4 separate regions of the Homo sapiens genome follow, and all the other regions are reported to be linked to region 2. Evidence: microRNA targets listed by miRTarBase, many of them from high-throughput screens and not tested one by one. Region 2 holds a microRNA gene; each other region holds the end of a gene's coding sequence.

Region 1 (7,110 bases), not on the chromosome of region 2:
CCCCCACTCAATGGAGGGGAAGGGGATGGTAAACCAAGCTTGAGCTGGATTTCAGTGTAGGGTCACAATGATGAATGGTCCAAAACATTCGCGGTTTCCACCAGAATTCAAGGTGTTGGCAACTACCTTCCTTGGATGTCTGAGTGACCCAAGATGTTAAGGAAGAATAAGGCCCTATTTTAATGTTGGTAGTGGCCCTCTTGTAAGAGTTTGCGCCAGACTTTTAGTATCAGATTGCGTCAGGGAGAAAGAAGGGTTATTAACATTAAAAGAACTTGCAGTAATTCCTTTTTCTCTTCCTCAGACTGCTGAGAAGGAAGAATTTGAACATCAACAGAAAGAGCTGGAGAAAGTTTGCAACCCCATCATCACCAAGCTGTACCAGAGTGCAGGAGGCATGCCAGGAGGAATGCCTGGGGGATTTCCTGGTGGTGGAGCTCCTCCCTCTGGTGGTGCTTCCTCAGGGCCCACCATTGAAGAGGTTGATTAAGCCAACCAAGTGTAGATGTAGCATTGTTCCACACATTTAAAACATTTGAAGGACCTAAATTCGTAGCAAATTCTGTGGCAGTTTTAAAAAGTTAAGCTGCTATAGTAAGTTACTGGGCATTCTCAATACTTGAATATGGAACATATGCACAGGGGAAGGAAATAACATTGCACTTTATAAACACTGTATTGTAAGTGGAAAATGCAATGTCTTAAATAAAACTATTTAAAATTGGCACCATACAATTGCTTTGAGTCTTTAAATAATCTCCCAGGCCAGCTGGTGGGAGAAGTAGGCTTAGGTGATTATGTGACTCTTACTTTCTCCTTCCTCTTAAGCTTGAGTTAACAAGGGCTGGGTGGCAAGTTGCCCTTCAGAGCATTGTGGATGGTACATTTTGGAATTCAGAGCTTTGAGAAGGGGAGCATAAGAAATTGGATCTGGATCAAACTAACCTTAGTCCTTAGGCTGGAGAGGCAGAAAGCTGACTTAATGGTGTTTTCTAAACTTATTCTGTGTGTAAGCCTGCCTAGGAGCAGAGGCTTTCCTGGAGGGTTGTGCTAGATGAGTAAGAATTTAGAGATCAGAATCAAATAATGGGCAGTGAATATTAAGCTACATGGCAGAGGTATCTGAATGTCAATCCCTTATATGAGCCACTGCCCTGTGGGCTTCCATTTCTTCCTGAGTTAAGATTATTCAGAAGGTCGGGGATGGAGCTAAGCTGCCACCTGGTTAATTAAGGTCCCAACAGTGAGTTGTGATAGCCTAGGGGAGCAGGCTGTTACCTGTCATTACGTACGTGACAGATTTCAGTGGACTAGCTAATCTTAGCATATGCCAAAAAGCTAATTCATGGAGGAGCTGCAGTTTTTCTCTTTGGTACTGAAGGGCTACTAATGTCTGGGTATCTCAGTGGGAATTTGTAGCACGATTTGATATACTTCTCATTCCATATTTTCTCCAAGGTTACAAAAAATGACAAGTAGTACACACTTCTTTTTTTGAAGGGTTTTACTCTTGTTGCCCAGGCTGTAGTGCAATAGCACGATCTCATTGCAATGGTGCAAACCCTGTCTCCTGGGTTCAAGGGATTCTCCTGCCTCAGCCTCCCAAGTAGCTGGGATTACAGCCATGCGCCACCATTCCTGGCTAATTTGTATTTTTTAGTAGAGATGAGGTTTCTCCATGTTGGTCAGGCTGATCTCCCTACCTCAGGTGGTGCACCCGCCTCGGCCTCCCAAAATGCTGGGATTACAGGTGTGAGTCACTGCACCTGACAGCAATGCACGTTTTTGGCATGTTTCTTTTGTTTGGGTGAGAATCTTACCTGGGCTTCAGTTTTCCATAGGGGTGTGTTATCACTTGTGCAGGCTGGACTGGAACTCCTGGGTCCAAGTGGTCACCCAGCCTTAGTTCCAAGTAGCTGGCTCTACAGGTGTATGTCACTGCACATGGCCATACCATGTATTTGAGATGCTACAAACTTTTTTGATGCCTTGACTCAACGAGACTAAAGGGTAAATATACTTTGATCTCGTTTCATGTGGAATCTTAAAAATATGTGGAAGGTTTTCAGTGGTAGCTGTTACTGTAAATTTTTGAACTTCAGGTTAATGTTAGCTTAATGTTCATTAGCAAAACACAAAATTAGAGGAGTAAATATGGCAATGTTTCCCCTATACAGATAATAACTTGTTGGACATGTGTAATGTATAGCAAGGAATTGGGGCCTGGGAAGGTGGGAATTAATATTTGCTAGGTTTTCTCAGTTATTCGTATTATACTTTCATCTATTTATAAACCAGAATGTGTTTATAGATGATACTGAGGCTCAGGTGGACACTTAATGTCATCACATAGTCTAATCTGGGGAAATGGATTTTTTTTTTTTTTTGAGAGCCTCCAGCCTCCCTTACCTAGGCTGGAGTGCAGTGGTGCGATCTCACTGCAGACATTGCCTCCCACTTTTGCATCCTCCCACCTTTGCATTCTCCCACCTGACTAGCTGGGACACCATGCCCAGCTAATTTTCATATTTTCTATAGAGCGGGAGTTTTGCCATGTTGCCAGGCTGGTCTTGAATTTTTGACCTCAAAATGGTTTGCCCCACCTTGACCTCCCAAAGTGCCGAGATTACAGGTGTGAGCCACTGTGCCTGGCCTATTGTTTGTAATTAGGGTTCTGCTGTGGGCTAGTAGTTTAAAAAACCAGTAAAGATGTTTAAACCCTATAAATGTCTAATTAGCTGTTAGGTAAGGCTTAGAGAAAGAGAAGGTAACCATAGGGACAGCAGTGTCTACCACTTCCCATTGAATTTCGAGTTAATGGCAATTGCTTCTCCCCTTATTTGATTCTCCAAATAACCTTACAATGGAGGGATGTTTGGATGCTCTGGCTGTGCATGCACAAATCTACACGGTGGCAAAATTTGCTTTTGCAAGTTACTGTAAGGAGGTTTGAGTTTATAAGAGGAAACTCCATGACCTAGATGGTTCTGTCCCTGCTGCACAGGGCGCTACTGGATTGGGAAGACAGGCCAAAAAACTTAATCTCTAGGTCCAGTTTAGGAGTTACATGCAGGTTTCTGGTGAACTTGGCAATATGGTTATATTCTAAAATGTATTTTTATTACTATAGCTCTCTCAGTTTCTACTTGACCTTATTAGACATTTTTCTTTTTTTTTTTTTTTTTTGGAGATGGGAGTCTTGCTCTGTTTCCCAGGCTGGAGTGCAGTGGTGTGATCTCAGCTTGCTGCAGCCTCCACCTCCCGGGCTCAAGCAATTCTGCCTAAGTCTCCTGAGTAGCTGGGACTACAGGTGCACGCTGCCACACCCAGCTAATGTTTTGTGTTTTAGTAGAGATGGGGTTTCATCGTGTACCGAGGCTCAGTATCCTGAGCTCAGGCAATCTGCCCGCCTCCCAAAGTGCTGGGATTACAAGCATGAGCCACCACGCCTGGCCCTTAATAGACTTAAACTTCTAAGGCAATAGTATAAAGCCACAATAATAAAATTATCCAACAATATTACTACAATATTTGTTACATATAAAATTAAAAAATGACAATGCCCGTGAAAAATCCTTTGTCCAAACTATATTGAGTACTTACAATGTTCCAGGCTTTAGGCTTTCAAAGGAAAAGTGGTCTTTTGGATTCCATTAAGGTGGGATGAAGTGGTTGCAGGACATAAATAGAAACGCTGAGAGTTTCCGTATCTGTGGGTCTACGTACTGATGTAGTCATCTTTGTCCACTAGATGGCAGTAGCTATTTATAAAACTATCAGAGTACCCCGGGGGAAGCTGCTGTAGCATTGTCTGTGCTGTTTGTTGTGCTTTCTAGCTGGAAGCACAGCAAATAATGAAGAAGGAAAAGGAAGTCAGCTCTAAATATCCACAATTACCTTCCAGGCAAAGCATTCTTTTTCTCCTTTTTTTTTTTTTTTTTTTGAGATGGAATTTCGCTCTTGTTGCCCAGGCTGGAGTGCGATGATGAGATCTCAGCTCACTGCAACCTCCACCTCCCGGGCTCAAGCAATTCTCCTGCCTCAGCTTCCCGAGTAGCTGGGATTACAGCCATGCGCCACCATGCCCGGCTAATTTTGTGGTTTTGGTAGAGACAGGGTTTCTCCATGTTGGTCAGGCTGGTCTCGAGCTCCCGAGCTCGGGTGATCCACCCGCTTCAGCCTCCCAAAGTGCTGGGATTACAGGTGTGAGCCACTGCGCCCGGCCCAGCATTCTCAACTGAGCAAGTGCCCTGCTTAGGTGGGAGTAATGGCTTGAGTTGAGATCTCAGGATACTTGGGCAATGGGTATGGAGGGATGGGTAATACAGACAGGTTTAGAATACAGAGGGTGAGGTGAAGAAAAAGCTCAGAGAATATAGCCTTTCCGGAGCCACACTGGCTAGTTTAAGTCCCCATATTATTTCCCTCATCCCCCTGAACTGCTTCTGGGTTTCTCAACACACTTTGGTGAAATGCTTAAATTCCTCAGGAAGCTCACCCAAGAATGGAGAAGCACCTGTGTGCACACCTGTGTTCCCAGTGTCTGGCACATAAGCAACATATATTTGTCAAGTGAATGAATAAAAAGGGGTGGGTGGAGCAGGTACCCAAGAGGGTAGAATGTGCTCCCTTTGTGCTTTATAATAGTCTGCTCATGATCATCTCTCTTGGAAGAGTGGGAGGGTGGTTGCTGGATGAGCTCAGACTCACTCTCTGTTCCTTGCAGGGTGGGGAGCCAACATTAGAGTTGCATGTGATGAGAAGAAAGTGATCAAACCTGGAGCAGATTTGGGTAAAGGAAAGTTGGCAATAACAGAATTGCCAAGATCTTGACCGGAATAAAGGTCTTTACATTGCCCCTGAGATCTGGGCACTATGTGGAGTCAGTGGGATGAACAGAGACAGTGTAGCTAGTCTGCAGTATAAGACTGTCAGGGCCTGCCTGGAGCAATGGGGCCTGTCCTAGAACACTGGGCCACAGCACAGAACATTCAGAGCATGCAGCCAGCTCAATTTTTTATTTATTTTATTTTATTATTATTATTATTTAGACAGGGTCTTGCTCTGTCACTCAAGCTGGGATGCAGTTTCATGATCACAGCTCACTGCAGCCTCCGCCTCCTGGGCTCAAGTGATCCTCTTACTGAGTAACTGGAACCACAAGCGCATGCCACCACGGCCAGCTAATTTTGTACTTTTTTGTGTAGAGATGGGGTTTTGCCATGTTGCCAAGATAAAGACACCATCAAGAAAGTGAAAGGCAAACCCATAAAACTAGATAAAATATAAATCATATATCTGATAAGGGACTGTTATCCCGAATATATGAAAAACACTCATAACTCAAAAAGACAACCCATTTTTTAAAATGGGCAAAATGTCTGAATAGACACTTCTTCAATGAAGATAAACAAATAGCTAATAAGCACATGAAAAGATGCTCAACATTAGCCACCAGTGAAATGCAAGTTATCACAGAGATAGAATTTCTCGTACATTAGGAATTTCTCGTATAATCAAGCTGGCAAGGATGTAGAGAACTTAGGACCCTCATACACTGTTGGTGGTATAGCCATTTTGGAAAACACTGATGGGGCTGGGCGCTGTGGCTCACACCTGTAATCCCAGCACTTTGAGAGGCCGAGGAGGAGGGCGGATCACCTGCGGTCGGGAGTTCAAGACCAGCCTGGGCAACGTGGTGAAACCCCATCTCTACTAAAAATACAAAAATTAGCCGGATATGGTGGTGTGTGCCTGTAATCCCAGCTACTCCGGAGGCTGAAGCAAAAGAATCGCTTGAACCCGGGAAGCAGAGGTTGCAGTGAGCTGAGATCACACCACTGCACTCCAGCCTGGGCAACAGAGTGAGACTTTGTCTCAAATAAAAAAAAAAAAAGGAATTGAGTACTGATATGTGGTACAACATAGATTAGCCTTAAAAACATTATGGTAAGTGAAAGAACCCAGTCATAAAAAAACACATATGATTCTATTGATATGAAATGTGCAGAATAGGAAATCTTTTAAGACAAAAAAGATTGATGGTTGCATAGGCTGAGGGGAAAAACGGGGAGAAATACAGAGTGATAAAGGGTATGGGATATTTGTTTTGGGGTGATCAGATTGTTCTAAATTAATTGTGATGATTGCACAATTCTGTAAACTAAAAATATTGAATTACACACTTTAGATGGGTGAATTGTATGATCTCAATAAATACATATATTAACTGAAAAAGAAAGAGGCGTAGGGCTGGTTTCCCCTGCAAGGAGAAAAGAGAAAGCGAGACAGAGACAGAGACAAAGGCCTACCATTGTAATTGGGAACATGGATGAGGAAGAACAATATTGCTCAGCTGAAGGCTGAGGTGGGTGGATTGCTTGAGGCCAGGAATTCAAGAGCAGCCTGGGCAACATGGCAAAATCTCATCTCTACTAAAACACAAAAATTAGCTGGGCATGGTGGCGTATGCCTGTGGTCCTAGCTGCTTGGGAGGCTGAGATGGGAGGATGGCTTGAACCTGGGAGGCAGAGGTTGCAGTGAGCTGAGATGGTGCCACTGCACTCCATCCTGGGCGATGGAGTGAGACTCTGTCCGCCCCCCCACTCCACAAAAAAGAAGGAAAAAGAAAAAAAAAATAAGATTCTTACTCTCAAAGAATGGAATAATCATGGCTGTGCTGGGTTTACTGGGCTTTTTTTTTTTTGGTAGTTTTATACTTTTATTTTATAATCAACAGTTAGCGCTCATCCATGTTGACGGTCTATACATTTTTGAAAGTGGTAACAGGTACATAGGTACAGCGCTGTTTTTGGTGAATCTTCATCCTCATGTTTTCTGTGCACATGGATATGGATATAGTATGGGACATTCCTTATTCCTTTGGCCCAGACAGTTTTGTTAAGCCTGATATCAATGTGTACATCTGGAGTCCGCATCTCCATGGCCAATTTCCGGATCTCTCTGAGTGCCCAAGGGGCACCCTTTTTGAAGCCCACTTCACGGGTACGCATGTAAATGTTGATGGTGGAGTCTCAGATGATCACCTCCGCTGATGGCAGAATGGTCCTTCTCACCGCCCTTCTCTGCAAGAGCCATTCTGCTGGGTCC
Region 2 (7,121 bases):
TTTAAAATAACAATTGAATTGTACAATAAGCACTATATCATTGCCCAATTTTTATTTTGATAAAATCTTTTTAAGTGATATCATTTCATGTTAGGCTTTTTGTGCTGCTTAATATTATAATTAATAATTCATATTTTTGTCTTTCTCCTCTCTGACAACTTTTATTTTTAATCGGTGGGCATGTGCCAAATTGGTTTGTTATTTATTTATAATGTAAAATGACAAGGGAATTGAATATGTGAAATAAGATAGATTTTCTTTCATATGACAAAAATTTCTTAGTAATGGGGATGCTTCTTGCTTACCCTTATAGATTCAAGGGTTTTAGAGAGGTTAGGTCAAATGTCACACTTCTCATATAACAACATGTGGTAAGTGCATTAAATAGACTGTTCATTTTTTAAAAATTCATTTTAGTTTTGTGAAGACATCTGGGCACATGCATAAAAAACAGGACAAAACAATATCAAAATTTGTAAAAGACTCCCTATTCCGATAAATCCTATAGTGTCAATTAAGTAAAAATTCTGACCAAACAGATGTATTTGTATTCTTTCCTAAAAACTAAAACAGGCAAACGTAATAGGAATAAACAGAGAACGTTTCAAAGATACAGAATTTCCATTGAAAAAATCAAATGTTCTGTCTGTAGGACTTTATAGAACATTAAATAATCTTTTCAGTACTGTCCATAACCAGAAACCACATAAGCTGGATGCTAGACTATTGACTAGTTATGACAAAAAATTCACAGTTTGATCTCAAGGGCATCAGCGATCCTGGGCTCAGGTGATCCTCCCGCCTTGGCCTCCCAAAGTGTTGGGATTACAGGTGTGAGCCATCATGCCTGGCCATCGTGCCAACGTATTGAAGTGGAAAGAACTAATGCTGAGCAGAGAATGGGCCATACCTGGGTGGTTTTAAGAGGTGCTGCTATAATGAAAAATCACAGGCTCACCCAAGAACTACCGTGGAATCAGAACCTCTAGGGATATGGCCCTAGAATCTGAATTTTAAGCCAGTTCCTGAGGTGCAATTCAGTTTGAGAACTACAGTCTTAAGGCAAAACCTTTCTATCATACCAGAGCTTCCAATTGTCAGGCCCTTTGAATCCACCCTTTGTGTCAAACCTTAGATAATTCAAGAGACATAACAAACGTGATCATGTTACATGCTTCCTCACAGATTTCAGTGTCTCCCATTTCTTCTATTAGTTTAAAAAACATAGTCCACCATCACAGGGCCCTGTTTAAGCCAGCTCCTCCTCTGTGGCTCTGCCTTTGTGGTCAACCTGTGCAAAACTTTGAGGCTGTGACATCACTTAGTCAGTCTCCAACATTTGGAACAAGAGAACTTTTTCTAACAATTTGATCCCAATTCCTATTTTAAGCTTGAGCATTATGAAGGCTGTATCTGTATATAATATTGAACACTTCAAAACAATTTTAGATCTTAATTATTTTGTTATTAAAATGTTGGGGGTGTTTAAGTTGACATTGAGTCAGATGTAGGAACTGATATACAGTGAAGTTAAATCCTTTAGGGTAAACTCATTCAGTGGTAGAGGCTGAACTACAGAGCCTAGGCATTCTGACATTCCACCACTGTGCTTATCAGCTTGCTCCTTGAGCAAACCTTTTCCTGCCTTTATGAGAATATGCCCATTTTATGGGCTCTGTATCTATGAGATATTTTACCTATGCTTATGTACACATGGTGTTTATCTTTCAAAGCTGGACTATGGAAAAGCCTAATTTTACAAACATGTTAGTAAAAGATTATGTAATCTGAGGTGATTACGTTTAAAATGGCAATGATAATGATGTTAATTCCAGTCCTGTGAGGTACTGTTTCTGATCTGGAAAGAGCAGTTTTCTTTTTTAACAGCTTATTTTGTATTTTCATAATCCATTTTAAGGTTTGGTATTAATATAGACATGAGAAATAAAATATAACTGTTGCCATGCCAAATGTATATCAAAAAGTTGCTAATAGCCATGACTGCTATTTGGTTAACTGTATTTCACTATTTAAATAAAATGATGGAAAATGGTGTGTCTAGGATCTCATTCATAATAATGAAAGACAATAGAAACTATTAGCATAGGTATGATGCTAATGAATGGTAAATTTTCAATAGAGATCCATCGACCAGATTGTTTGAAAAATGTTTCCTGTGGGTACGAAAAATGCACACAAACAAACACATGCATCAAAATGTCCATAATTAAGTTTTTAGGGAAAAATAACAATATATGTTGGTTAAGGACTTTCACTTAAATGGCATTATAGATCTTTCAGAAATGAGAGTTGATTTATACTTCAGTATTTTGGTTCCCAAAGGTTGGGACAGTGGGTGGTAGAGGAGAAGTAGAGTAAATGGAAGGTATACATGTATGTGTGTGCATATGGGCAACTTTAAGCACCTTGAATTTAATGAACAAAAAATGTCATTATTCTGTGTTTATATATTTTTGTGTGAAACAAGTACCTTTCTCTATCACTGGAGTTTACATGGATTTTCTCATGATATCTTTTGAGAATCTCTTTAAACACTAAAATACATTTTTCCAAATGAAAACTCCCATAATTCTGCTTTATTAATATCTGAATGAATATTTCCATTGATTTGTCCAGAAGAAGGAACTGAGTACTGTTTAGAGAGCAATCTTTTTCATGATAATTGGCAGCAATGTTTCCCTGCTATCAGAAAGAAAACTATAGAAATACGAAACTTTAGATAAACATGGAGATAAAAATAATATTATGGAGTCCAACTGGTATCTTTGAGGTGAGGACAGGCTGAGATGGACTCCTTGGCTTCCTTCTGTCCAAAAATTTCCTGTTTCCCTATTTCCTACGGTTACCACCATGGAACATGTTAAAATCTCAGTAGGGACTCTGTTTCAACTTTTCCTGTCAAAACACAGTGAAAAAGCTTAATGGAAAAAAATGTCCTTCCTATCTCCATGCCAGGCACAGTGTAAGATCCACAAACTTAAAAGCCAGGAAAATATTCTTTTATGTGCCCCAAAGCTGGGCAAGTGACCTAGTACTACAAAAATTCCCAAATAGGCATGTGACCTGACTAATGTGTGCTGTGAGATGAGTCAAGAAAAATGGAACCATCTGTACTTTTATTGGACAGTCAAATAATTTCTTTCTGTCCACCCAAAAACATAATTTCTATGTTAAGAGTGATACAAGGAGACTTTTAGAAAGTCTAATTTTTAAAATCAGAGATATTAAAATATATGAAAAGTATAACCTATTAAACACTGGTGGAGATAAGCAAATAGGCTTATGAAATCATTATTGCTTTAAAAATTTGTTACCTACTCATTGTGTACTAAGGCTTCTCTACGACATACAGAAGAGGCCGGTGCGGTGGCTCACGCCTGTAATCCCAGCATTTCGAGAGGCTGAGGCAGGTGGATCATGAGGTCAGGAGTTCAAGACCAGCCTGGCCAAGATGGGGAAACCCCGTCTCTACTGAAAATACAAAAAAAAAAAAAATTAGCTGGGCATGGTGGTGGGCACCTGTAATCCCAGCTACTCTGGAGGCTGAGGCAGAGAACTGCTTGAACCTTGGAGGCGGAGGTTGCAGCAAGCCAAGATTGCCCCACTGCACTCCAGCCTGGGTGACAGAGCAAGACTGTAAAAAAAAAAAAAAAGAAAAGAAAAAAAGACATACAGAAGGAAATCAGGGAAAATGGGAAAATGAAGGGAATTAACAAATTGCAATAATCTTTAAGAAGTAGAGTATGAACAATTTTCCTTTTCTAGGATGAAAGCTACCAACAACTGAACTCTTAGAGTGAGTGATGGCAGAAAAAAATAGCAATCAAGAATAGGGGCATGTTAGTTTTTAGACATGTTTACAAAACTCTGCCTTTTATTTCTTAAACCCATAGGTCAACCACCCATCATACCTACATTACCCCATATGACAAGTGGATTTGTTGTATGTTTCAAGTTTTTAATCTTGGTGGGAAGGGGGAGGGCAGAGAAGTATTTATTGGTAAAATATCATAATAAAGGTTGAGCCTGTCAATGATTGTACCTAACAATAATAAATATGTGTAGGAAGTAAGAACGGCAAAAATGAAGCCGGGTAGGATACTGTGGATATGGTGACAGACAAGTATCTATACGAAATCCTGAGATATTTGTCCTCCATTTCATAAATTAAAGTGCCCCCTCTTTTGCTTTACAGATAAGGAAACTGAGGTGCATTATAATAGCAACAGCAGCTGATGTGTAGTAGATCCATACCACAAGCCAGGTACGATGTCAAACATTTAAATGTATCATTTAATTTAATTTTCATAGATCTCCTACAAGACAAGTGCTATTATTTTCATTTTACATACGAGAAAACTAAAGCTGACAGAGATTAAATAACTTGTCCAAGGTTGCATAGTAACTAAGTGAAAGAGCCAAGATATGAACTCAGATCTGTCTGATTTCAAAACCCAGGCCCTTAAACACTAGGCCAGTGGTTTTTTAACCCTGATTGCACATTAGAAGCACCTGGCAAGCTTTTAAAACCTACTGATACTCAGACCCTACCCCAGAACAATTAAATCAGAATTTCTTGTACCTGGGCCCTGATGTGGGTGTTTGTTTCAAAGCCTTTCTGGGTGACTGTAACATATAGCTTGGGTAAAGAAGAATTGTTGGGTGTCTCCCATGGAGGTCAGTATATCTGTGCCAATATGTGAGGTAGTACAAGACTCAAGTGTCCTCAGTCTGTCTGCAGTGGTTTTTCCCTTGCCCCATCATGTTCACTTTGACATCTTTTTTTTATTATGATTTTTGGAGAAGTAATATACAAGTGACAATTTTTTTACAAAGCATTGTCACAGCAGAACATGGTCATAAGTCCATCAAAGAGAAACCTGTTCATATCTATGTACAGGCTATGATGAATGAATACAAAGAAGACTATGTTTATTACTCTCATCCCCAAAGGGAAGTATAAAGCTGGCCTTAAAAGCTGTTCATACCAAAGCTAATCACTAAAATTTGGAATGGCTTCCTCCTCTCCTTTCACAAATGCAATAGGGTAGCCACTGGATCTAAGGGGAAAAGATCCAATTACCACTCTTTACAATGCTTTTTCACTTAGGATCTCAAGACGACTGACAGTCATTCAAAACATAAAAGTAAAGTGAAAATATCTCTAGTAGAAGTGAAAAGAAAATGTCTGTAGTAGGAAGAAGGCCTAAATTTGTGTCTATACTCTGCCACTTTACTGCAATGACTTGAGGCCAAAAGTAAAGTGACAGAGTATAGACACAAATTTACTGCCATGACTTGAGCCTTGATTTCCTTTTCTATATGTACTTAAGCCATATCATCCTTAGGGCAGTGATCCAAAAAATGTGGTCCCCATCAGCATCATGTGGAAACATATCAGAAGTGAAATTATCAGTCCCTACCCTAGACTCTGAATCAGAAACTTGGTGAAGGGGCAGTAATCTGTGTCTTACCAAACATTGCAAATAATTCTGACCACCTCCAGCTGACTCTGATGTATCCACCTCCATGGGGTTGTTGTCTAAGAATAAAAGGAGATGGTCCATAAAATTGTTATTTTTTTTACTATCTACTGAAATCAGAAATTTCAAAATTCTCTCACAGAGATATTTTAGAGAAATAATGTTACAGCCTACATTAGTTAGATAATAACCTCATTTCTGAATTTCACTTTGAATGTGTAGACGAGGCACAAGTCAACCAGAGGTTATGCAATTAGCTTGGAGTCAAAGAGAAAGCAAGGAGTAGAGCTGAGAAGGAAACCCCAGTGTGAACTTGATTTTTATTCAATCAAACTGTTAAGGTACCAACCACGCACTTTCATCTATAATCACAATGAACCTTTTAATAAACATGTTTCTATCCTCTTAGCTTAAAAAATATAACAGTAGCTTTTTGGATTTTAAAACAGATTGACTTCTATACTTCTGGGCTAAAGGCAGCTCAAGAGTCAATAAGAATCACAAGCTTTCCACAGTGAGAAGAAAGTGCAATTGCCCAGTCCTCTCTATCTATGAAGTGCAGACAGTATTCCTCTTCCTCACCTCACACTTTCGATTATTGCAATGGTGGAAACCATGATAAATAAAAGCGCTTATCTAGTGGTTTGGTTTTCACTAAAATTACAGACTTCTGTAACATTATTTGGATACCATAAAACACAAACCAAATTTTAGGAGATGCTTTAGGGTGTTTTTTCCCCTGCCCTCCTGTCGGAAGCCCTCTATCTTTTTACTGTAATTTATCTGATATAGCTACCAAGATGCTTGATACTTTTACATGCAAGGGTGCTGAAAAACAAAGAGCGAGGGAATGGGTTGTTAATGAAATTCTCTGATTGTAAAAAGCACTCTGGAATGATCAGGTGGTAAATAATAATAAGAGGAAATAACATAAAGTGCTTAGGTGCTACAGCGATAGTCACCATATAAATGCAGAAGAGATCAGACATGAATAGAATTTGCATTTTATGCAGCTGCTGTGTGTGTATATAGAATATACAGTAGCTAATTTTTCAATAATGCTGGTAAAATATTGTTCAAAATCTATTCTTGCTGTCTTCTCACTTTAAAAGGCATTATATAGAAAAACACCCATCTGTCCTAGTGCAATGGTGAATGTGTGCAAAGAGCCTAGAAAAAGAGCCTCTTTGCATACGTGAAAAAAAAGAACTCAAATAAAAGGAGATAATGAAGAAGAGACAATAGTAACACTATTAGAACAGCTATGCAGACAAGCACAAAGGTGATCTTTGAAAAACATCAGGGATAAATAACTCTGTTAATGTGTGGCAGAGAAACTACAGTTAAGACATACAGTAATATACCAAAAATATAGACATGCTTTTATTTTGTCTACTGGGCTATTGTGATAGTGATGGTTGTTTTTGAATAGAAAGGAAGAAGAGAGTGGGAAGTAGGATTTCGTTGTTTGTTGTTACTGTTGCTGCTCAGTTTAGAACAACAACATCAACTACACACCAGACCCGTCCAACAGTTCCACAAACAATGCTTACCATGAATCTGCCCTCAATTTTCTTGTTGTTATTTTCCCTTAATACTTATTGATAACCCAATGCC
Region 3 (7,121 bases), not on the chromosome of region 2:
CAGAGGTAGCATCTGTCTGGAACTGTATCTTGACTCTCACTGGTGCTTTTCCTTTGGTTGATGCAAAGCTTTTGAATCCTTTAGGGAGATGTCATTGTGAGTATCTATGATACTATGCTACTACTATCTATGATCATTGAGAGTATCTATGGTACTATGATACTACTATCTATGATCATTGGGAGTATCTATGGTACTATGATACTACTATCTATGATCATTGTGAGTGTCTATGATAGTCTCCTGTGCCTTCAAAATCTTTGCCTTCTCCATAGAACTTTCCCAACTAGCTTGTAAGATCCAAAGGTGTGAGACACACTGATCCAGAACATTCAGGGAGTGTAGTGAGGGGAAGGAAATATAAATTGTCTCGTCAGCAGTTAATTTTTATTTTATTTTATTTTATTTTTTTTGAGATGGAGCCTCGCTCTGTCGCCCAGGCTGGAGTGCAATGGTGCAATCTCAGTTCACTGCAACCTCCGCCTCCTGGGTTCAAGCAATTCTTCTGCCTCAGCCTCCAGAGTAGCTGGGATTACCGGCACCCACCACCACACCCAGCTAACTTTTTGTATTTTTAGTAGAGACAGGGTTTCACCATGTTCGCCAGGCTAGTCTTGGACTCCTGAGCTCAAGTGATCTGTCGGCCTCGGCCTCCCAAAGTTCTGGGGTTACAGGCATGAGCCACCGTGGCCGGCCGGCAGTTATGTTTTGATGGCCTTTTGAGAATGGAAGCCTGTGTGGATTCCGTTGTCTGCCTTGCTGTGGATCCTGAAAGGTGTTCTGTTGGCACTGGGCGCTGAGCCAGGGGGCAGGCTGTGGTGGTCCAATGTTCAGTTGGCATATTTCCACTTGTACTTCAGGCACCCAACTTCCGCCATAGCCTAGGGCTTCAGTCTTCACCCTGAGATCCCTGGTTCCATCAAGATGCTCAGCTCCATTCGGCAACCCGCGGACACCCGAGATCTCTTTTTAATGGCAATGTATTACTGCACACTTCGTATTGTCCTAAGTACTCTGTGCACATTACTGAAGCTAATCTTTGCAACAATCCTCTGAGGAGATACAGTACTGTCAGTACTCCCATTTTATCGATGAGAATACTCACAGGAAGGTTAAATAATTTGCCCAAGTCTCTCAGCCAGTAAGTGAAGGCTTCAGAACTGAAATCTAGGAGGAAGTTCAAAGCCCCTGGGCCTCACTGTGCTATACAGTCCATTCCAAACCCTGAGTCAGCCTCCCTCTGAACGCACTTTTCCAAGTATATACATATGCACAAGGTACATTTCCAAGGACCTCCTGGCTCTGATGATATAAATATCATCTCTAATTGTAGTACATCAATATAACGGAATACCATGAAGCCATTAGAAAATGGTACAGATCTATATTTATTGACATGGGAAAATATCCACAAAGCAAAGCGAAAAGCACATTACAGTGAAATATACCATACCTGGCCGGGCATGGTGGCTCACGCCTGTAATCCCAGCACTTTGGGAGGTCGAGGAGGGTGGATCATTTGAGATCAGGAGTTCGAGACCAGCCTGGCCAACATGGAGAAACCCCGTCTCTACTAAAAGTATAAAAATTAGCCTGGCGTGGTGGCGGGTGCCTGTAATCCCAGCTACTCAGGAGGCTGAGGCAGGAGAATCGCTTGAACCTGGGGGGCAGAGGTTGCAGTGAGCCATGATCGCGCCACTGCACTCCAACCTGGGTGACAGAGTGAGATGCCATCTCAAAAAAAAAAAAAAAAAAGAAAAAAAAGGAAATATACCATACCCATTTCTAGAAATAAAATAAATCCAACATGGGCTGGAAGAATAAACCAAGTTATTCTCTTGAACTCCTGGGCTCAAATGATCCTCCCACCTTGGCCTCCCAAAATGCTAGGATTACAGGCATGAGCCACAGAGCCTGGCCCCATCATTCTCTTTGGGTGAGCGTTGAAGGTAATTTTCACTTCTGAGCTCACTATAGCATGGGAAGAGTTTAAACTAGAATTCAACATGCTGCTTTTGGAGAACCGTTCCAAACAACAGGGAAGCTGTGAAGACACAGCTCAAGGTTAAACAAAACTGCCCAGGAAGCTCTAGGACAAGCTTGTCCAATCCATGGCCTGTGGGCCACATGCGGCCCAGGATAGTTTTGAATTTGGCCTAATGCAAATTTGTAAACTTTCTTTTTTTTTTTTTTTTTTTTTTTGAGACGGAGTCTCGCTCTCTCGCCCAGGCTGGAGTGCAGTGGCGTGATCTTGGCTCACTACAAGCTCCACCTCCCGGGTTCATGCCATCCTCCTGCCTCAGCCTCCCGAGTAGCTGGGATTACAGGCGCCCGCCACCATGCCTGGCTAATTTTTTGTATTTTTAGTAGAAACGGGGTTTCACCGTGTTAGCCAGGATGGTCTCGATCTCCTGACCTCATGATCTGCCCGTCTCGGCCTCCCAAAGTGCTGGAATTACAGGGCAAATTTGTAAACTTTCTTAAAACATTATGAGATTTGTGATTTTATTATTTTTTTTCTAGTTCATCAGCTATCATTAGTGTATTTTATGTGTGGCCCAAGGCAATTCTTCTTTTTCCAACATGGCCCCAAGGAAGCCAAAAGATTGGACACCCAGCTGGGCGCAGTGGCCCATGCCTGTAATCCCAGCACTTTGGGAGGTCGAGGCAGGCAGATCACTTGGGATCAGCAGTTTGAGACCAGCCTGGCCAACATGGTAAAACCCTGGCTCTACTAAAAATACAAAAATTACCCGGGTGTGGTGGTGGGCACCTGTAATCCCAGCTACTTGGGAGGCTGAGGCATGATAATTGCTTGAACCCAGGAGGTAGAGGCTGCAGTGAACCGAGATCGTGCCACTACACTCTGGCTTGGATGACAGAGTGAGACTCCATCTCAAAAAAAAAAAAAAAAGCCAGGAGTGGTGGCTTACGCCTGTAATTCCAGCACTTTGGGAGCCAAGGCAGATCACTTGAGATCAGGAGTTTGAGACCAGCCTGGCCAACATGGTGAAACCCTGGCTCTACTAAAAATACAAAAATTAGCCGGGTGTGGTGGCAGCTGCCTGTAATCCTAGCTACTCAGGAGGCTGAGGCAGGAGGATCCCTTGAACCTGGGAGGTGGAGGTTGCAGTGAACCGAGATCATGCCACTGTACTCCAGCCTGGGCAGAGTGAGACTCTATCTCAAAAAAAAAAAAAAAATTGGACATCCCTGCTCTAGGGCCTAGGACTGGAGCTCTGGATCTGACCGGAGCAAAGAGGAAGCACGCAAATCCGGACATGACGACGAGGAGGCAGTAGAGACCCATCCTCAACTGTAAGTAACTGCCTTCGGCAGGGAAGGGGCTAACCCACGTTGTGTGGGCTCAGGCACGGCCGCGTCTGGTTCTGTGCAGGAACACAGGCAGAGGCAAGCCCTGGGTCCGCATCATGGCTCTGCCCTCACTCAGATTGCCTTGTACATGTAGGTTCTTGTCCTAGAGCCTCTTTCCCTACTTCTAAATGAGTGGAAAGCCACCCACAAGCCCGTGAGTGAGGATGCCCTTGGTAAACCCAGGTGATCACACCCTGGGCAGGCCCTGCCCCACAGGGCCCCATCCCGCTGCTCCCCAGCCTGTCCTCACCAACTGCCCAGGCAGGAGCAAAGCCCACGGGGAGGACCTGTGACCACAGGCAAGGACCACGGACCCCAGCCCCAGGGATTTTGACCTCAAGAAAGGAAACATCCACAATTTACCCTCCATCTGGTGATCCAGCTGCATCTGGGGTGGGTTTGGTCTCTGCTGGGACCATGAGGTTCAGACCACCAAGAAATAGCACTAGCACAGGTGAAAATCATGGGCAAACTTTATTGGCATAAATCACAGGAATTGAAATGGGAAAAGCCAGCTTGGAAGTTTACAGAGAAAAAATAAAATCAAAATCAAATTTTCAAATAACCACTGACTCAGAGAATGGACCCCAGAAACCCCAGTCCCTCTTGGGGAAGATCTAGGGTGGGTCACTATAAACAGAGCGGTAAGGCCTGCGGGTGAAAGTGGAGACATCAGACCTTTGGAGGGGCTGGGCTGACCTTCCCCCAAAAAGGAGGGACCCTCTTCGGAGACCCCAGCACACTCGGCTTCTGCCAGGAGGCCAGTGGAGTGGTTTGGACTGTCACCATTAGACCCCGGTGGGGCCCCTTTCTCCTCATCAGGAGCCCAAGGCCTGGCTCCTCTTTCATCCTTGGTAAAGAGCTCTGGGGGGTTTCCCCAGAGGAGCCTGTCCCTCTGCCCCAAATCCTATCATGCTCCCTTATGACCTTCTTTCCAGACCCCCTGAGTGCCGATCCCACCTGTGAAAGGGGAGGAGCAGATCTGGGGAAGGGATATGCCCAGAGGAAATCAACAAGACCAAAGAGACGTCAGAGTCCTGATGGCCAAAATCAGACACCAGCTTTCCTGAGAAGGCAGAAGAGAGAGCCCCATAGAAGCAGTGGGGGCTCAGAAGGTTCAGTGGGTTCACAGGGGAGCAGAGGCTCCTGAGGGCTTACTCAGACAGGAAGCAGCCCCCCAAAACATACTTCCCCTTCTCCTCCCACAGAAACAGAACAGATAAAGTTCAGAATTCTAGGCCCAAAAGGGTGCAACACCCTTCAACCAGTTTCAGTGAAGAGCTTGCTGGCCTGGGAAGTAAAGAAGGGGTTTCCAAATACAGCAGTTTATAAAACAGTCCTGGTGAGCTATGAAGTGAAAGAGGGGGAGTCACAGAGCTGCTCCCAGTTCACCTGCTTGTGCTAAGAAACAATAAAATACAAATTGCTTCCCCACCCCAACCCTCAGTACAAAGCAAACTTCACACCAGAGCCACCATCAGTGACAGGCCCAGTGGCGGTGGATGAGGAAGAGAATACAAAAGGGAACGTCTTTAAAATCTCTTCAAAATCATTTTGTATAGAGAAGTAAAAGCAACTCAGGCGATATGAATTCAAACCTCAGTGTAGAAATCTATCAAAGTCGGTACAGTGTCCAGGCACGCCGTCCCGGAGACGGAGGAAGTGACTAGAAAACATTATTGCTGGAGAGGCTTTTCTCAGTAGAACAAGAGCAGGTATAAAAGGGGAGGGCGGGTCTAAAAGGCAGGGGCAGTCGCCAGGCCTAGGGCACTGGAAGGGTAGGAGGAGCACAGAGAACCTTCCATGGCCCCTTTGGTTCTCTGCCTTTGGATGGATGGATTTATGCTGGCATTGTCTGGAGGGAGCCGGGTGTCCCCCAATAATCACAGAACAAAGACAATTAGGTCGGGGGAGGAATAAGGATAAAAAGAGACCCCAACAGACCCTGCCTGCCCTTCCCTGCCCCCCGGCTGCACTGCTGAAATATGAGGAAGAGATGGCTCCAGTGTGGGGTGCTGGCCAGGCCAGTTCGTGGGGACGTACATGGGCTGGGGTGGAGCCCCCAGCCTCTACCCCTGGGGAGGATGGAGAGTGGGCAGCCTAGGGAGAGCTACAGGAGGGAGGAGGGGGCCCAGAGGCTCTGGCAGGGGTGAAGACAAGCAGGGGGACCCCTCACGGCCCTCTGTCCATCCCGCACCAGCGGAGGACAAGGGTTCCAGTTTCAGTCGGGTTTACCCCTTCACCCCCGGGTGAAGTCTCTAGGTCACAGTCGCAGTTGGGGATGCTGGCTGGGGAAGGGGGGCAGAGACAGGGGCAGGGCACCTAGCAGAAGAGCTTGAGGAAGCAGTTCTGACAGTAAGGCTTGTCGTTCTGCTCCTTGAAGGTGCCCTTGTTGAGCTGCTTGAGGCAGAAGGCACAGACGAAGTGCTCGGGGTGGAACTTCTTGGCCATGGCGGTGATGCAGCGGCCGGTGATGGGCTTCTGGCAGCCAGAACACAGCGAGCCGCGCCGCTCGTGGTAGTGCACCTCACAGTAGGGCTGCCCGTCGTGCTCGAAGAAGCTGCCGTTCACGAATGGCGTGAAGCATTCCTGCCAGGCGGAGAGAGGGGCTCAGGGAGCTGCCCCTCGGGCTAGAGCTGCACCCTGTGTGATGGGGCCGAGGTGGGCATAGTCGGCACGCTCGGAGTGACTCCTACTTGCTAGGCGTTTCCCATGTGCCGTGTTGTCCTAAACGCTCATTTTTCATTTTTATTTTATTAAATAAATTTTTTTTGTAGAGATGGGGGTCTCACTATATTGCCCATGCTGGTCAAATGTGGCCTCCTGCAATCCTCCCACCTCGGCCTCCCACAGGGCTGGGATTATTTAGTTCTCCCAACAGGGGAGGCAACTGAAGCACACAGGTGAAGTAACTTGCCCAGGGTCATGCAGCTACTGAGGTCACAGCCTGGATTCATACACAGGTCTGACTCCTGAGCACTTAGCCAGGTGGCTGTAACAGTGTTCCCAGAAACACAGGTGTGACACTGGTCTGTAGTCAAACTCTGCCTCCTAGATTCTCATTGGAGATTCACATCACATATAGGTAGAAAAGGCTCTGAGAGGGGCCGGGTGAGGTGGCTCACACTTGTAATCCCAGCACTTTGGGAGGCCAAGGGAGGCGGATCACCTGAGGTCAGGAGTTCAAGACCAGCTTGGCCAACATGGTGAAACCCCGTCTCTACTGAAAATACAAAAAATTAGCCAGGCATGGGGGCGTGTGCCTGTAATCTCAGCTACTTGGGAGGCTGAGGCGGGAGAATCACTGGAACTCAGCAGGCAGAGGTTGCAGTCAGCCAAGATCGTGCCACTGCACACCAGTCTGGGCAACAGAGTGAGACTCCGTCTCAAAAAAAGAAAAGAAAAGAAAAGGCTCTGAGAAGTCCTGCAGGGAACAGTGTTTCCCAAACTCATTTGGTCAGAGAGCCCTTGTTGAATCATTAATAACCCCTGTGGGGCCCCCAGAATGCAGTGGTTTTGGAAACCACTGCCCATTTCTGTTGAGTCTGCTAAATACTTGCATTATCTCATTTAGTTCTCACACACTCTCCTCCCAAATAGGAATGGCCCAGGGCCGCTGCACAGGGCTGGACTGGGGGACATGTCTACCTTGCTCCTGGTTTGTCCCAGCCTCAGTACAAACCCTGGCCCAGGACCTACTGGACTGGAGGAAGGAGATCCCCTGCCTGCTCCCCCAATTAATAACC
Region 4 (7,121 bases), not on the chromosome of region 2:
CAAAATGTGTCTGCCATCACTTGAGCTAGTAGTGGGAGCATCTAGTTTTGGAGCTGGACAGGCTTGGGAACGCATCCCTGACTCCACAAATTATGTGACTTTGGCTTAATGACTTATCATCTGGGAGCCTCACTTTCCTCATCTGTAAAACAGGACTGACACTCACCTTGCAGGAATACTGGAGGTCTGTACTGCGCTGCCAACATCTATTCGCCCTCATCCGTGACAAGAGTACCCACAATTTCCTCTGGGAAGCTGCTCCTCTCTGATTAGTGTCTGTTCAGTGGTTGGAGGTTGACCCTACCCCAGCTCTGAGACGGCCTGGCCAGCCTATCCTAATTAGCATATCCCTTTCACCCTGGCCACAGTGATTGACTTAGGGCTGGGCTGTGCAGAGGTGAGCCTCAGCTTTTTGGGTAGGAACACCAGGACTTGGATTCCAGTGGGTTTAATGCTAGGAGGGCATCAAGCTTGTGATAACTGTGGCCATTTTTGTTACCATAAGGGTAGCCAGTCTGAGGATGGAAGCCAATCTACAGGAAACAGAGCTAAGAGATACTAATGCATCCCTAAATCACTTGAGTCCTGGATCAAACCGTTCCTGAAGCTCCTACTAAGCTACACTGTTATGTGAACCAATACTCTTCCTTTTGTTTAACCAGTTTTTGGTTTTGTGGGTTTTTTTGTTTGTTTTTGTTTTGTTTTGATATAGGATCTTACTCTGTCACATAGGCTGGAGTACAGTGGTATGATCTTGGCTCACTGCAACCTCCACCTCCTGGGCTCAAGCGATCCTCCCACCTTAGCCTCCCAAGTAACTGGAATCACAGGTGCACGCCACCACCATGCTCAGCTAACTTTTAAAATTTTCTGTAGAGACAAGGTCTCACTATATCACTCAGGCTGGTCTCGAAGTCTTGGGCTCAAGAGATCCTCCTGTCTCAGCCTCCCAAAGTGCTGGGATTACAGGTGTGAGCCACTGTGCTCAGTCAGAATCTGGTTACTCCTGCACCAGAAATACCCTAAGATTTATTTGGCCAGGCACGGTGGCTCACGCCTATAATCCCAGCAGTTTAGGAGGCTGAGGTGGGCGGATCGATTGAGCTCAGGAGTTTGAGACCAGCCTGGGCAACATGGTGAAACCCCGTCTCTACAAGATATACAAAAAAAATTAGCCAGGCTGAGTAGTCCCAGCTACTCAGGAGGCTGAGGTGGGAGGGTTGCTTGAGCCCATAAGGCTGAGGCCGCAGTGAGCTGTGATTGCACCACTGCACTCCAGCCTGGGCGACAGAGCGAGACCTTGTCTAAAAAAAAAAAAAAGAAGCATCCACGGTCCTATGACTCTCTGTATTCTTGGTTTGTTATCACCAGAGAAGAGTTCCATTTCTCCGCTGGAAGGATATGCCCGTATTGGTGTGTTCCGGCTGCTCTAACAATATACCGTAGACCGGGCAGCTTCAAAACAGCAGAAATTGATTTCTCCCAGTTCCAGAGACTGAAGTTCGAAATCACAGTGCCAGCATGGTTGGGTTCTAGTGGGGCCCCTCTTTCCGGTTGCAGACTGCTGTCTTCTCATTGCATTCTCATATGGCGGAAAGAGGGTGAGGCAGCTCTGTGGGGCCCCCTTAGAAGGGCCCTAATCCCATTCATGAGGACTCTACCCTCATGACCTAAGAACCCCCCTAAAAGCCCCACCTCCTAATCCTATCACATTGGAAGTTAGGACATCAACACAGGGGCCTGGTATGATGGCTCACACGTGTCATCCCAGCACTCTGGGAGGCTGAGGCAGGTGGAATACTTGAGCTCAGGAGCTTGAAACCAGCCTGGGCAACATGGCAAAGCCCCATCTCTACAAAAAATACAAAAACTGGCCAGGTGTGGTAGTGCACACCTGCAGTCCCAGCTACTTGGGGAGCCGAGATAGGAGGATTGCCTGGGCCCAGGAGGTTGAGGCTGTGGTGAGCCATGTTCACGTCACTGCACTCCAGCCTGGGTGCACTCCACAGTTCTCAAAAAAAAAAAAAAAAAAAAAATTTCAACGTAGAAATTTGAGGAGGGGACACAATTCAGCCCATGTCAGTGGCCACGGAGAATCCCACTTCCTCCTGGAAAAATCGTCCAGAGGAGCCACAGGCCTCTTGGTTAGTGCCTTAGCCTGGGTCTCCTACCCGGGGCTTGATCTTGTGGGGACCTTCTGTTTCAGTCCATGTCATGTTGCTATAACAGAATACCTGGGGCTGGGTAATTTATAAAGAAAAGAGGTTTTTTTTTTTTTTTTTTTTTTGAGGCGGAGTGTCGCTCTGTCGCCAGGCTGGAGTGCAGTGGCATGATCTTGGCTCACTGCAACCTTTGACTCCTTGGTTCAAGCGATTCTTCTGCCTCAGTCTCCTGTGTAGCTGGGATACGGGCATGTGCCACCATACTCAGCTAATGTTTGTGTGTTTTTTTTGCTTTGTTTTGTTTTGTTTTGAGACGGAGTCTTGCTCTGTTGCCCAGGCTGGAGTGCAGTGGCGCAATCTTGGCTCACTGCAAGCTCCGCCTCCCGGGTTCACGCCATTCTCCTGCCTCAGCCTCCCGAGTAGCTGGGACTACAGGTGCCCACCACCATGCCCGGCTAATTTTTTTGTATTTTTAGTAGAGATGTGGTTTCACTGTGTTAGCCAGGATGGTCTCGATCTCCTGACCTCATGATCCGCCCGCCTTGGCCTCCCAAAGTACTGGGATTACAGGCATGAGCTACCACGCCCGGCCAATTTTTGTATTTTTAGTAGAGACAGGGTTTCACCATGTTGGCCAGGGTGGTCTCGATCTCCTGACCTCGTGATCCACCCGCCTTGGCCTCCCAAAGTGCTGGGATTACAGGCGTGAACCACCATGCCCAGTCAAGAAAAGAGGTTTATTTACCTTACGGCTCTGCATGCTGAGAAGTTCGAGGGCATGGTGCCAGCATCTGCCTGGCCTCGTAGCATGGTGGAGAAGGTTGAAGGGGAAGCAGACACGTGTAAAGAAGCAAAACCCAAGGGGCTTCCTGGTTTTATAACAACCTGCTCTCTCGGGAACTAATCCATTCCCACAAGAGGAAGAACTCACTCACTCCTGAGAGAAGGCACCAAGCCATCCATGAGGGATCCACTCTCGTGACCCAAACACCTCCCACAAAGCCCCACCTCCCAACACTGCCACACTGAGGGCCAAATGTCAACAAACCATATCCAAACCGTAGCACCTTCTGAGGAGCCGAATAAAATGTGCCTCCGAATTGTCCACGCCAGTGACAGAAGAGGAGAGCTTGTGTCTACTGGCTCCATGTCCCACGGGTGAAGGGTGGCCCCAAACGGTGTTGTCATTCACATGCTTCAAGGCTACATATGCCTGAGTGCCTCGCAGCTTCCTAAAGATGACAGAGGCTGATGTTGGGTGCTGCCAGGACACTCAGACCCATGCAGAGCTGGCTGTCGCCACAATGGCAGGAGTCAAGGTGGCTGAGAGAGGCCGGGTGCGATGGCTCAAGTCTGTAATCCCAGCACTTTGGGAGGCAGAGGTGGGTGGATCACCTGAGGTCAGGAGTTCAAGACCAGCCTGGCCAACATGGTAAAACCCCGTCTCTTCCAAAAATACAAAAATTAGCCAGGTGTGGTGGCACACGCCTGTAATCCCAGCTGCTCAGGAGGCTGAGTGAAGCAGGAGAATCGCTTGAACCTGGGAGGAGGAGGTTGCAGTGAGCTGAGACTGCCATACGGCCCTCCAGCCTGGACAACAGAATGAGACCCCGTCTCAAAAAAAAAAAAAAAAAAAAAAAAAAAAAAAAGAGGTGGTTGAGAGGATGTGAGATGGGACAGAGGTATGAGGTGCAGGTGGATTTTCAGGGAGTGAACACATTTCCAAACCAATGTCTCGGCTGTTGGGAAGCTTCAGATAGTATGCAATTAAATTTTCCACACCAGATTTCAGGCCCTGAAAAAGCAATTTGAAAAAGGCTCTCTGTGGCCGGGCGCGGTGGCTCACTCCTGTAATCCCAGCACTTTGGGAGGCCGAGGCGGGCAGATCACGAGGTCAGGAGATCAAGACCATCCTGGCTAACATGGTGAAACCCCGTCTCTACTAAAAATACAGAAAATTAGCCAGGCGTGGTGGCGGGCGCCTGCAGTCCCAGCTACTCAGGAGGCTGAGGCAGGCGAATGGCATGAACCTGGGAGGTGGAGCTTGCAGTGAGCCGAGATCGTGCCACTTCACTCCAGCCTGGGTGACAGCGAGACCCTGTCTCAAAAAGAAAAAAAAGAAAAAGGCTCTCTGTGCAGCCACAGCCTCCACTGGACCGTGCAGATGGGACCCACCAGGGTTACTGCTTGGCCCGCTCCACCATGGACCACCAGCATCTCCTCTCTACCATGGTGGCCAGCTGGAAGCCCTGTGGACACTGAGCCATGCCACAGAAGCCATCAGACGCACACCATGGGGAGAAATGGCAGTGTGGGGATCCAAGCAAGCCTGCACCGGCATCGAGGCAGAGTTTGCACTCCAGTCACTCCATGGTCGCGTGGCCTTGGACAAATGATTCACTGTGTGAGGTCCAGGTTCCACATCTCTCAAACTGGGATCTTAACCCCCAGCAACCTCTTCATCCCAAAAGGCCATGTTGATGTGAAATATCTAACACGTATGGTGAGCACTTAATGAGAGCTGTACTTTACAAACCTCAGTTTATTGACATTCTAATCATTCGATAGGTATTTCTCAGGCACCACATACAAAGGTTTGTTTTTTTGAGATGGAGTTTCGCTCTTGTTGCCCAGGCTGGAGTGCAATGGCGCGATCTCGGCTCACCACAACCTCCGCCTTCCAGGTTCAAGTGATTCTCCTGCCTCACCCTCCCGAGTAGCTGGGATTACAGGCATGCACCACCACGCCTGGATAATTTTGTATTTTTAGTGGAGATGGGGTTTCTCCATCTTGGTCAGGCTGGTCTTGAACTCCCGCCCTCTGGTGATCTGCTCACCTCAGCCTCCCAAAGTGTTGGGATTACAGGCGTGAGCCACCACGCCCGGTCTTGTTTTACATTTATGGGAGCCTACAACATGCCCAGTTCCAAGTTCAAGAAGGAATGGGAGCTGCAGTTGTTGTGGTCTAACAGCTTTCCGTTTAATGTCACACTGTAAATGACACCAATTGCACCCCAGGAGGTTCCCACTCTGTAATAGGTGAACCAGCCCGTGGCCCACGGCTGGAAGATCACATGTCAGAGCTCTGCATGAGCCAGGGGAGAAGGTGCTGCATGGACAGAAGTAAGTGGGTGACCAGTGCCACTAAAAGCAGAGCTTGAGTTTACTCTCATAACCATCGGCTGTGGGCCAGACATTTGGCTGCTTTGCAGGCAGACCAGGCTTCCCGGTGAGTCATGCTGCTTAAAATGCTGTCTGGGAACGCAGAGAAAGTCTAAACGCCAAGACGCTGAGGACAGCCCCGCAGGTGGACTGCCATGCCCGGCTCGGCCCCTTTTTGGTCCCCAGAGTGGACCCTTCTCCTCCCCACAGAGGGGAGGCATCTGATGGTGGCTTCAGCAGACAACCTGGAGAAGAACCACTCAGGGTTTGTCTTGCTGACGTCCTATAGCCAGCAAAACCCAGGGCAGGAGAACCCTGGCTCTTTAGGGCAGGTGGGGGAGAGGGCATCTTAGCAGGGAAGGAGCTAGGGTAATGCCAGAAGCAACCCACTCAGCAGGGCCACTCAGCAACCCCCTGGCGAGCAGAAAGGTGGCAAACAACACATCTTCTGGGCAGACTCCTTTGAAGAGAGGTAGAACATACCAGAAAGGAATAGCATTGTGACAGCAGGGCCGGGTGGGTGTCCTGCTTCTGACAGATCTAGTGCTGAGGGCAGACGTGGTGCATGTCTCCAGGTTTCAACCACACACAAACCGGTCGTGAAAGTTTGAAAGATATTTATTTAAAAACAGAACAAAAAAGCTTTGGTATTTCAAAACCTGACAATCATCAATCACTAGAAAGTTAAACACCTCCCCTGAAGCCCCAAAGTACAAAACCACAGATGTCCACAGGCTCCTAAAAAAGGGCGTGCAAACCCGAGGATGACAGCACAACCCGCACCCTCCTACAGGCAGCAGCACAGCCACCCTGGGGGGCCCCGGCCCAGCCTCGGGACCGTGGGGCCTCCGAACGCCGAGATGGACATCACCGCCAACACTCACCATCTACAGGGGATGCAAAAGCCATCTAGCAAAATCTCAACAAAAATAAATTAAAACTTCATTAAGAAAGAACACGTTAAATTAGGAAAAGGACACAACTTTTCCTAGACAAGAGTCTTTTCAAAAGATGATCTATTTCCTGGGACAGAAGAAAGGGGGAAAGTGGAAGGAGTGAGTTCCATTTCAAGTATTTGCCATACAGGTTCATTTTATTGAGTGGAAAGCTTACAAAAGGTCCACTGGCCCCTTCCCTCCCCACGTGACACTCATTCCTTCCAATGCAAACTCTGGTGTATCCACACTCACTTCTGCGTCACCGGTTTCCCCCAACAAGGCACAAAGGGCGGGTGCTTCCAAAGGATCCCTTGCTCCTGGCAGCGGGACTTTCAGTGCTGGGTGTCTTGTGCAAATGGTGGCTGAAAGCAGGACTGTTAGTTCACTCAGACACTGGGATCTTCCTGTTCAATTCACAAAACAAGTGTGATTACTGTTCACTGCCAACCCCAGTGGCCAGCTATAGAAATAGGCTACGGAGACAACCCTAGTGGCACCACACCCTGGCTCTGACCCAGCCTTGCAGAATTACCACGGACTCAGTGGCCTGGGCCCTTCTGGAGCTGAGTGTTCACTGGCTCCACTCTGGCATGGCCCAGCTTGAGCCTAAGTCAAGGAGAGATCGGTCAGTACCCCATGAAGGTAGTTTGGCTCATTTGCCCAACTGTGGGAGGAACCGAAGGTGCACTCAAGAGCGAGGGCAGAGAAGCCACCAAGCAGCAGGGAAAAGCAGCCGCCTGCCAAACAGACGGCAAAACCCACACGATGCACATTTGGCACCTGTCCTAGTGCAGCTAGTTCAGAGGCGGCTCACAAGGAAGGCCTCTGTGCAGTCCTTTTTGATCTGACTTTTGATTTT

What was found. The annotated mature microRNA hsa-miR-4796-3p reads UAAAGUGGCAGAGUAUAGACAC and lies in region 2 at 5,236-5,257, opposite strand. An mRNA with a match to its seed (bases 2 to 7 or 8) in the 3' UTR can be bound and repressed. Matches are read on the target gene's strand: a 7mer-m8 pairs with bases 2 to 8, a 7mer-A1 pairs with bases 2 to 7 and ends in A, and an 8mer does both.
Region 1: the mRNA of HSPA8 is a reported target of hsa-miR-4796-3p. Seed matches in the 3' UTR shown: 7mer-A1 at 661-667.
Region 3: the mRNA of PXN is a reported target of hsa-miR-4796-3p. Seed matches in the 3' UTR shown: 7mer-m8 at 4,036-4,042.
Region 4: the mRNA of KIAA2013 is a reported target of hsa-miR-4796-3p. Seed matches in the 3' UTR shown: 7mer-m8 at 6,368-6,374.

The regions. Positions count from the first base shown.
Region 1 is chr11:123,051,114-123,058,223 of GRCh38, reverse strand. HSPA8 (heat shock protein family A (Hsp70) member 8) reads left to right here. Exons shown (of 9, transcript NM_006597.6): 9 at 305-735. The coding sequence ends at 490. It overlaps SNORD14E (small nucleolar RNA, C/D box 14E), which reads left to right and starts at 68; the gene lies at 68-147. It also overlaps the pseudogene RPL31P47.
Region 2 is chr3:114,738,217-114,745,337 of GRCh38, forward strand. MIR4796 (microRNA 4796) reads right to left here and starts at 5,309; the gene lies at 5,229-5,309. The region is part of intron 5 of ZBTB20 (zinc finger and BTB domain containing 20); the gene reads right to left.
Region 3 is chr12:120,206,617-120,213,737 of GRCh38, forward strand. PXN (paxillin) reads right to left here. Exons shown (of 15, transcript NM_001385981.1): 15 at 3,831-5,964. The coding sequence ends at 5,698. PXN-AS1 (PXN antisense RNA 1) reads left to right here. Exons shown (of 4, transcript NR_038924.1): 2 at 1-5; 3 at 3,223-3,318; 4 at 5,759-6,212. Among named protein-coding and RNA genes, the nearest start is that of PXN-AS1, 8.9 kb to the left of the region's middle.
Region 4 is chr1:11,913,667-11,920,787 of GRCh38, forward strand. It overlaps KIAA2013, which reads right to left. Exons shown (of 3, transcript NM_138346.3): 3 at 5,925-6,666. The coding sequence ends at 6,649. Among named protein-coding and RNA genes, the nearest start is that of RNU5E-1, 9.1 kb to the left of the region's middle. RefSeq lists an enhancer at 1,364-1,423 and a silencer at 3,297-3,452.